Regions from separate parts of the Homo sapiens genome. Here region 1 is linked to region 2. Evidence: fine-mapped expression QTL. A gene starts in region 2. The other region holds a variant in brackets. All regions are shown on one strand. Distances are from middle to middle.

Evidence for each region.
Region 1: its variant is fine-mapped to the expression of CTNND2 in coronary artery (GTEx, PIP 0.95).

What each region holds. Positions count from the first base shown.
Region 1 is chr5:11,976,733-11,982,116 of GRCh38, forward strand. No RefSeq gene overlaps it. Among named protein-coding and RNA genes, the nearest start is that of CTNND2, 75 kb to the left of the region's middle. The variant TG/T (reference allele first, on the strand shown) is at 2,314.
Region 2 is chr5:11,901,857-11,907,240 of GRCh38, forward strand. It overlaps CTNND2 (catenin delta 2), which reads right to left and starts at 2,590. Exons shown (of 22, transcript NM_001332.4): 1 at 1,961-2,590. The coding sequence starts at 1,997.

The DNA of each region.
Region 1 (5,384 bases), 75 kb after region 2:
ACAAGAGAGCCTCCCAAGAAGACAAGAGAGAACAAAATCACCATGGGATATTAGCCACATCCAGAGGTCACCACCAGGCTTGCATCTGTGTCTGGCCCTCAGCCCCTTCCCTCCTCCTGTCCCCCTTCTCATGGAGAAAACTCAGAGCCACTATAGGGAAGGGAGTAGCAAAGAAGAAGGGCAAGGATGCCTACTCTTCCCGGCTCCCAGAGTTCCTCCTCCAACCCACACTCCCAGAAGCAGGCCTCAGCTGGGAGTGAGAGGGAGTCTCAAATGGGAAAACTATGGAATTGACTCCATAGGACTTTTAATTCAAAAACAAGAAGGTTGCTTGTCTGAAAATGACCCTAAGTCTTTTTGTCATCTGTCTCTGACTGGAAAAGTTATGAAACCTCGGCAAATTTCATCCAAAGTTTATGGAATAAATGGCCCACATTATGGGTTCAAGGGACAATAAAAAGGAAACCAAAAAATGATACTGATTTATTGAGTAAAGCTTTGTCAATAGATAGTTAAGAGCTGGCTTTGTATTAAACTTGAATATCTAGAAAATCAGATACACAGATCTTTCTTATTTAAAAAGACATCTAAACTACTATATATTATATAGTACATGAGGTATCATAGATTATTTAATGGGCATGTGTATGTAGTTTGTGCTGTGCAAACAATGCTACAATTGATTGATTGATTGATTCATTTATTGACTCATACATTCACTGATTCAACAAGCATGTAGTGAGCACTGAGTATGTGCCACATTCTCCTAAGAACTTGGCAGGGGATAAACAATTTGTTTGCTCATGGAGTTTCTACTATCAGGAAATAGACATCCTTAGGATACTGTTGAGAATAGACAAGTACTGTAAATTCCTAGCAGAGGAACTGTTGAATAAAAGAGCATGTGTTTTTGAAATTCTGCTAGATACTGTTAAATTGCCATGCAAAATGTTATCCCCGTTGACAAACGCATCAACCATATAAGGGATTGCCTGTTTCCCAACCCTTCACCTACATGCTATTCATATATTGTTTTTAAATTTTGCAAATTTGATTTGTAAAGCTTGCTCTCAATATCATTTTATATTTCATTCCTTTACCTGTGAGTGAATTTGGACATCATTTTATAACTTTATTTGCCATGTTAATTCTTCCATAACATATCTATTCATAGCCTTTGGTGTCATATGTACTAGGAAATTATACCAGGAAATTAACATTGATACAATGCCATTGACTAATCTACAGCCTTCACTCATGTTTTGACCATCTATTCAAGTTACTGGTCCAGATTGCCATCCAGGATCCCTGTTGCATTGATTTGTTCTGTCTCCTTAGTCCTCCCAAATGTCAGCTGTTTCTTTGTCTTTTGTGACATTGACTGACACCTTTGTGAAGTATTGGTTATTTAACTGGATGTCTCTGAATTCAGATTTGTCAGCTATCTCCTTACGATTAAATTCAGATTATCTATTTTTAGCACAAATACCACAAAGGGATGTCTACCCTTCTGAGTGTAGGATATTGGGAAGAACACGTCACCTTCTCCATCTTATTACTGGTTACCTTTTATCACTTGCTGGTGTCTTCCAAGCATAACCACTGTAATGTGGTTTCTAATTAATATCTTGTGGGGCAATACTTTGAGGCTATGCAAATATCCTGATTCTTACAATTTTTTAACTCACTAATTTTAGCATCCTATTTATGATTCTTTGCAATAATTATTACTGTGGCATTTGTCAAATGGCAGTTTTTTTTTTTAAATCAGGATTGTGTTTTCATATTTTGATTTCACACAACAACAACAATGAAGCAAAAAACAGGCTTTGGTAACATTGTGTATTGTGTAATTTGGTTTGCTGGGCAAAGCCATGTCAGCAGAAGCCATATTTTAGGTTGTATGAATAAACATCTAGGAAAACTCAAATACCTGTGACCTTCAAAAGACTATTTTTGTAATAACTCTTCCTTGATAAGCATAGTTGATATGAAAGATGATTTGAGAATCTAGACTTATTTTTTGGTGGAGTCATAATATTTTTGTGATATATATAAATGTGATTGATGGGTTACTTTCAGATTTAAGCATGTAACTCATGTTAACAACTCTTATGAAAAACATTGCTGGTATCTGTCTTCTACCTAAAAAGTGGAATTTTAGATTGAAAAAATAATTGAAAATCTCATGTTTTAAAAAACTTACCACTGTTCAAAAATGTCACCTACTTTTTCTTCCATCAACAATAGACTGTTGGATAAAAAGTTGTGAACTTTTAGACCTGTCATCTGTACAATTTACTTGTGCTTTAT[TG/T]GCTTAAAATATCTGCTAGGCAGCAATTGCCAGTCTAAAACTTAAATACACATTTCAAATCTAATTATTTGTCAAAGCAACTTTGCAAAAATGTTATTTTTTTGAACATGATCCAAAATTTCCTGTCTAAAACACATTTCCTTTAAAACTCAACTGATATAAAAGACAAGTATGGGTACATTTTGCAGAATATTATTCAAAGGGAAAGAAAATGAGATATTTAGGTTGATGAAATAAGAGAATAAGCAACTGACAATAATGTAGACCTCCACTTCAGATTGTATTTTTTTAAAAAATCAAATACTTTTCTATGACTTCTCTCTAACCTCTTCCACATAAGTAGTTGAGTTTTATCACAACATTAGTATAGTATATTTGAATATTGTGCTAACATAACAAATGTGTCAGTGACTTAGTTTTTGCATAATGGAGCTCATATATTTATAGCTAAACTAATATTCTGAATAGTTGTTATTTTTTCCTTGGTCTCTGGGTGGGTCCTTGTAGCAGAGTACCCTCAGTTTCATTGTGGACATACAGTGTGAGCGAGATTTAAACCTTTCATTTGTTAAATCATCAATATTTTGAATTTCTTTCTTATAAGAATATAAGCTTAACCTTCCCTGATTAATACAGTTACTAAGATTTCCCCCCTCTCTCCTATAACAACTTAGTTTCCTTAGACTAAATACTCAGATGTGGGACTGCTGGATCAAAGGTATGCCTATTTTAAGTTCTGCATTTTTCTAGAGTACTTTCAAATAAAAGGTATAGGAATTCACAGTCACAAAATCAACCAGTAGTACAGTATAAAATCTATTTTATTCATTCAGTGAACTATGAATGCATCTAGTAAGAGGAAGGATTTAGATGAGAAACTCTCAAATGTTTTGGTCTCAAAATTACTTTATACTCTTAAACAATATCGAGAACTCAAAAAAAAACTTGCTTAATGGGTTGCATCTGTTGATATTTCCCATGTAAGCAATTAATATTGAGAAATTATAAATATCATTATGTACAATTAAGTATTTTAAAAAGAGCGGTAGAACATCTATTGCATGCTAAGATAAATAACATTTCTATAGAAAACAATCATGTTTGCCAAAATGAGAAATAACTGTGGGAAGAGTGGCATTGTTTTAATTTAAAAAACGTCTGCCTCGCTAGAAGATACCTAGATCTCTCAGCTGCCTCTGCATTAAATCTGTTGTGATAATTGCACACAATATGGCCTCCGAAAAAGTCTACTGTATATTTGTGAGAGAATAAGTGAAGCAAAAAACTAAGGTCTTAGTATTATCATGGAAACACTTCTGACCTTTCAGTCAACCAGCCAGAAAACTTACAGAACTTCTTATGGTCTGAATGTTGGTGTCCCCCCAGAGTTCATGCTGAAATCCTGACTCCCCAAGGTGATGATATCAGGAAGTGGGGCCTTTAGGGGAATGATTAGATTGTGAGGGCACAGCCCTGGGAAATAGGATTAGTGCCCTTTTAAAGGAGGCCTGAGGGAGCTCTTTCACCCTTTCTACCATCTGAAGACGGGGTGAGAAGGCGCCATCTATGAACCAGAAAGCAGTCCCTCACCAGACATCAAATTTGCTGGCACCTTGATCTTGGACTTCCCAGACTCCAGAACCACAAGAAATTTTTTTTTTTTTTTTTTTGAGATGGAGTCTTGCTCTGTTGCCCAGGCTGGAGTGCAGTGGCGTGAACTCGGCTCACTGCAAGCTCCGCCTCCTGGGTTCAAGCCATTCTCCTGCCTCAACCTCCTGAGTAGCTGGGACTACAGGTGCCCGCCGCCACGCTCGGCTAATTTTTTGTATTTTTAGTAGAGACGAGGTTCTGGGCTTGGTGGTGGGCGCCTGCAGTCCCAGCTACTGGGGAGGCTGAGGTAGGAGAATGGCGTGAACCCGGGAGGCGCAGCTTGCAGTGAGCCGAGATCGCACCACTGCACTTCAGCCTGGGCGACAGAGCGAGACTCCATCTCAGAAAAAAAAAAAAAAAAAGAAAAGAAAAGAAAAGAAAAGAAAGAAATTTTTGTTGTTTTGAAGCCACCTAGTTTCTTGTATTTTGTTTTAGCAGGCTGAATGGACTAAAACAGAACTTCTGGTTTAGATCATTAGCTACCAACTTGGGGGAATGGGGCCAGGCTGCAATAAATGACAAAGCAATCCTAAGAGATGGATTATATATATTATATATATAATATTTTAATATATATTTTATATATGCATATATATTTTTATATATGCATCCATGTGTCTATATATGTGTGTGTATATCTTTAACAGTAACACCTACTGTTAAATATACCATTAGAAAAATTCCAAAGGTTGAAACTACTGCACAGAAGCGTATCTCTGTCCAGGGTTGTCTAAACACTGAAGACTCTCCAGGAGAATTTGCCTCTGGACGTTAAGGTGATTGACCTGGGGACTTTAGTTTTTGTTGCTGTGTAACAAATTACCCAAATGGAGTGGCTGAAAGCAGGAGCCGTTTGTCATCCCTCAGCTCTTTAAATCAGATGTCTGGCCCAACGTGAGTGGTTCTCTGTTTGGGTATCACAAGGTTGAAATCCAAGTTGAGCAAAGGTCTCATCTGGAGGCTCTGGGGAAGGATCCCCTTCAGAGCTCATTCTTGTAGTTGGCAGAATTTGTTTCCTGTGGCTATAGACTGGGGTCTCTGTTCTTTTGCTGGTTGTGAGACTGGGGTTCCCTTCAGCTCCTACAGGCTGTTCTCTGTTCCTTTCCATGCAGCCCTGTCTATCTTCAAAGTCAACAATGAATAATCTCCTTGGTTTGAGTATCCTTCCACATTCTACTTTCTCTGACCTCCTAATCTGCCACCACATGAAGACCATTCTCTGCTTGTAAAGGGCTCACGATTCAGACAGGTCCATACAGATTGTCTTTCTTACAGTCAACTCAGTCATATAACGTAACATAATCACTGGATTGCTATCTCATCATATTTAGAGGTTCTACCCATACTCAAAAAGGAGGAGGTTATATATATAGGCCAGGGTCATGGGTCATTCCAGTTTGTGCCAACCACATGAATCAGA
Region 2 (5,384 bases):
AACACTAGGCTCAAAAGGAAAAAAGAAAAGGAAACGAGACATGTATGCTACTTCATCTATTGCTTTTGAAAGAAATTTTATATTAAAACAATGCAGTGGGCATAACGGTGTGTTCAAAGTGCTCTCGGAAAGTTCCCTGAATGTGAATAAGGTGAAACTAAAGCAATATTGCTAAAGACTAATCACAGTATTCAATCAACTTGAGCCGTATAGACCTTGCCAGTCCTCCTGCAACACTGACTTGTGATTAGTGTAATCAAAGGCCTCCCAAATTTCAACACTTAACTCCGAATGTAATCGTCTTCCTTCAAGCCCTGAGCCCTTGGAACCCACAGATCAGTAATGATGCCACTTAACATTTTTCCCCAACAACAGTAGGAACATTCTCCGTATGGCAACCATATGCTAATAAAAGACATTTGAGGGCAGTTTAAAGCATCTAGTTCGTATTTGAGGATACTCGCCCCTATATATCACACGTCTCGTAGCAGAAATCCCCAAAATAATGACAGGTTCACCGCCATAACTTGATATGAGTCACAGCAAACACTTCTCCATGGGATTTTAGAAGTGGTGCAGCCCCGAAGCCTTGTCATTATGTAGGTGAATGACCAGCAGCAGAGACCAGCTGGACTGCCCTCGGTAGCTTCAGCCCCTGATGAAGTATGCACAATGAGATAACTCCTAGGGAGTTTCAGCACCTCCTTGTTTTCATGGAAGTCACTGCAGAAAATCCCAAGACTCTTAAATATTGGTCACATAGTTCTTAAAAGTGAAAATTTACACCTGTCAGGCCTAATACTATGCTGACAACATTCTCTGTTTTCTAAATCAACATATTTGCTTGAGCACAGTAAAAATACATCTTAATAACACCTGCCAGAGCTAAGGCGAATCAGATCAGCTCAAATGAGGCACACAAGAAAAGAAAAGAAAAAAAAACACCTTGGAAACACAACCTGCCCCTCTATCTCTCATCTCCCACACCCTTCATACCCCCACGGTTACAGCAAAATACAACTTTGGGCATTTTGGAAGTAACTGTTATTTGTGACACACACACACACACCCCAAAAATTCCCAAGTCTGTTTTCCTACCACAAACACCAGGGAGGCTGCATCACCTTTCTAGTGACTTAATTCTGAAAGCAGAGGCTCAACCTGCCGAGTGGCAATCGAAGAAAACACACTACACACCAGAATAAGATGAGGGTCGGGAAAAAAAGAAAAAAGCAGCTTCGCTTTCAGCCATTAATTACGGATCACCCCAATTTTGCATCGCTCATCTCCCATACACACGCACAGCCTTCCAAACCTGGCTTTCAGGCGGCGCTTTCTGGAGCCTGGCTGTCTATTGTCAGCACGCAGAAGCCCCCGAAACCTGTGAAGCCGGCTGCAAAGGCTTGCTGGGAAGCCGCTAAATATAGACCAAGGGGGCTCAGGGTCTGGCAAGCCGCGGGAGCCTGAAGACACGGCCATGGACGCATATGACTAAGTCTTTCCATTTTGTTCTAGCCAAACATCGTAATGACATTGAACATAAGGGCAAAAGACTGGAGGGAAGTCCTCCCCACCCCCACCCCGTCTCCTCCCGTATATTAGGGACGTCATGAATGCACCGAGTATGTTCTCAGGGTGGCGGGGAGCAGCATTGTCGGTGTTGCCCTAAATACGCTTCCTCCCGGGGAGATGGGTGGCAGGGAGGGGGAGCACGCAGGGCAGCCACTTGGTAACCGCTCCAAGAAAGGCACTAACCCCGGACCCCCTTCCAGGCACAGCGGCTTCCGAGGGGGACCTGGCGCGATCGCGGTCCTCCCCGAGGCAGGCAGAAACCCCGCAGCAGCCGCCGCCGCCGCCTGCCGGCCGGGAGCCCAGGACCACCCCCACCAGCGGCAAGAGGAGGAGGACGGCGCCGGGAGGAGGCTGCGCCCGGCCCCGGCCGCCCAGCCCCGCAACTCACCCAAAGGCGCGGCGCCCGGCGGCTTCCTCGCAAACATGCACCCTCCGCCGGCGACAGCTCCTCAGTCCGGGAAGAGGCGTGCGCGGCGCCGCCCGGCTTCAGGGCAAGGTCCTGACCTTGCCCAACTGCAGCATCTTCCGCTTTTGTTGTCTGAGCGCGGCCGCGGGACAAGGGATGCTGGCGGGCGGCAGGGGCGAGCGCCGCGGGCGAGAGGCGGCTCCCGACGCGAGTGCGCAGCGCCCGGCCCGGCGGCCCCTCCGAGCTCGGCGAGCGCAGCGCCCCCTGCCCGGCTCCGCGGGCTCCACGGGCTCCTGCGGGCTCCTCGGGGCTCCGGGCGCCGCCGCCAGCCGGCCGGGCTGAGAGAGCAGCCGCCGCGCCCGCAGCTCCGCTCAGCCGGCTGTCGCCGCGGGCGCGAGCCTGGGGCCGCCGCGGCGCCCGGCGCCGAGCGCTCCCGAGCTGCGCCCCGCGCGCGGCCCGCGCCACCTGTGCCGCCGCCGCCTCAGCCGCCGAGGGCGAGGCTCCTCCCGCGGCGCGCGGCAGCCTCAGCCTCCACCTAAACCTCGGCGGCCGGCCCGGGCGCCCGGCTAGTGAGGGAGCGTCCGCCCCGCCGCCGAAACCGGCCCCGGGTGCGGAGCATGCCCAGTGCCGCCGCGAGAGCGGCGCTTCGCCGCGCGCGTTCCACTTCTCCTGGTTTTCGCGGCAGCAGCGGCAGCCGCGGGAGAGAGGGGAGGAGGCCGCGGGTTGGGAGAGGGCCGAGCATCCTTGGGAACGCACGCCCTGGACCTGAGATGGGTGGATGCTCCGGAGCTAGGCGAAAGCTGGAAGGGACCCGGGAAGGGATGGAACCCCAGGTTACTCCGCTTCCCTAATTCACGTGCAAGGCGCTGACAGTTGACTCTGGTGGGGCAGATGTCAGCCTGCAACAAAGGACCAGGGTGCGAGGGGTCCTAGAGTGGCCAGGTGGGTTGGGGGAGGGAGGCTGGCGGAACGTGCTGGTGAGCGCAGGTAGATGCTCTTGCAGATCCTGTGATTCCAGAGCTAAGGAGGCACGAAGTCCAGCAGAGGTCTTCTCCACAGCACCTGCCCAATCTTGCCATCACCTTCCCTGTTCAGATGGCATGTTTTTGGCGGGTAGTGAGGGTTTCTCCTTAGGCAAAATCACTTCAGATTTGAAACTGGAATGTCTGTAAACTTCCTGCAAGAAAGACCCTTGCCCAGTCTGGAACTTGAGCAGATTAAGTTCTCTCTCCTCCCCTTCTTGTGCCACCTTGTCCTCCTCTCTTGGTATCTTCTGCTGCATCTCTGCCACCTTCTCTTCCTCCTTTTCTTCCTTATTTCAAAGTGAACCACTCCCCTGATCCTTCCCCACAGTCTTCCAGTGCATCTCGCATTGCCTTCTTCACGTTCAAATCAGTTTTCCATATCACCTCCTGGCTTGACTGCTCCTTGACCCCATCGGGACTTCCCCATGCGTAGCCTGCTGTGAAATACAGCAAGTGGAATCACCGTATTCAAAGTCTTGTTGAAAAACGAAACCCAAAACATGTGCCAAGGAAGGCCTCTGGGCCTTCGCCCCTGTCCCTCTGATTCAGCAGCAGTCAGGACGGGGCTCACGTCTGCTGCATTCACAAGCCAAGCCAAGCAGGGCACAGCCTGCCCAGGGGCCAGGTCGAATGTTCCTCCTAATTATGCCACGGGCATGACCCTGAACACCGCAGACTGTCTGAGGTTGTGATCTCCTCCACCCCCCCCACCCCCCCCACCCCCGCAGAGCTTGTTTCTGAAACACAAATAAGCATGACAGAATGCAGGAAATTGTAATAAAAGGGATTTGGTGCTTACGATTCTCAGTAACATTGTGCTTCTATTTTGTGTTGAAAGAGATTATCCAACAAACTTAAATGATTTGAATATTCAAGTCTATTCTTTATTATACTTGGGAGTAAGTTGAAATATAAATGGAAGTAAGAGTGAAGGAGAAAAGCGGTACAGAGGTTAAATAGGTAACAAATAATTGCTAGGAGGAGCAGATTAAGCAGACTATTGACAACAGTACAAATGTTCGCTTTTATTCCTCCTACCCCAGGTGTGGACATGCACACACAGGCTTTGTCTCACCTGCAAAAAACAGTTCTCCAAGCTAACTCCAAGTGTCTTAAAGCCAGTTTGATATTAAAATATCCTGAGTCCTGTGAGGGAAGACATGCAAGACCATTTTTTTCATCACACGTTTAATTGTAATTTTTATCTTAGTTCTCAGAAAGGCAGTTCAATTACACTGAGTACGTGGTACAAGACAAATTAGCAGCACCATATCCATTAGGCCACATTATATTTCAAGAGATGTTCTTAGTTCCCACCTGAGCTTCTGTCAGTCTGCTATCGTTTGGTTTTCTCTTTGCATCTTCTAACTCAAGAAGTCAGTGGGGAGGTGGAAAGGGAGATGAGGGGACATCAGTTACTCTTTAGATTAAAATGGAGGTAGATGTGTAGATGCTATCCACAGGTAATATATGTGTCTTTTATGCCTGATATAGATCTAAGTAAAGAAAATAATTTTCTAACGTTTTTTAGTTACTATCGAGATGAGCAATGACAAATTCTATCAACTAATTGTGTGTCTGGGAAATGAGCTGGAGGCAGTCCCTACAGATACTGTTGGGGCTGGGGCTGGTGTGATATGGTTATTTAGGAAGCAGAGTGGTAAAGTCCAATGTCCTGGACTGCTTTGATTTCATTTGCTCAGTGCCCCATTTCATTGAAACATTTATGACTTTTATTATTCTAGAATAATTTGTAACTTAAGATATTATTCAATTCACAATTAGATAATATTGAAAAATAAAGCAAAATGAACATGTATAATGTTAGATCTTGGAACGACTCACTGCTGCCATCTTTTGCCTCCTGCTTCCGATAGTTCCTATATAAAGGAATATTCTGAATCCTCAAATTCACTATGAGACTAGAACATTATTAGTTTATTATTTTCAAATTACAGTACTCAATGCTCAGTGAAAAACCTTCATTGTATTTCTTCTGTTTATGCATTAATAGAGTTATCTGATACAGAAATCACATATAAATACTAAATGCTATATCTCTTGATTTTTCAAATCACTTTTCAAAATTTGAAGCAAACGTTTTTATATGGAAGTGTAACTTAACTTTAGAAATAAAATCTAACAATTCCAAATATTTTTTATAAATGTATGTGTCTTATTTTGTAATTCAAAGTATGTCGATTTTAGGAGAATGGCATTCTTATTTAAGTCACAGCTGTTTCAATATGGCATTGTTTGTTGCTATTGAGATTCAAATAGAAGATAATATTTTTGTAATTTTTTAAGTGAATTACCCATTGATAAACAATTGAGAAATTTTCAAATTGGGAAATGAAATCAGGTGAGTGATTATTGTTGCT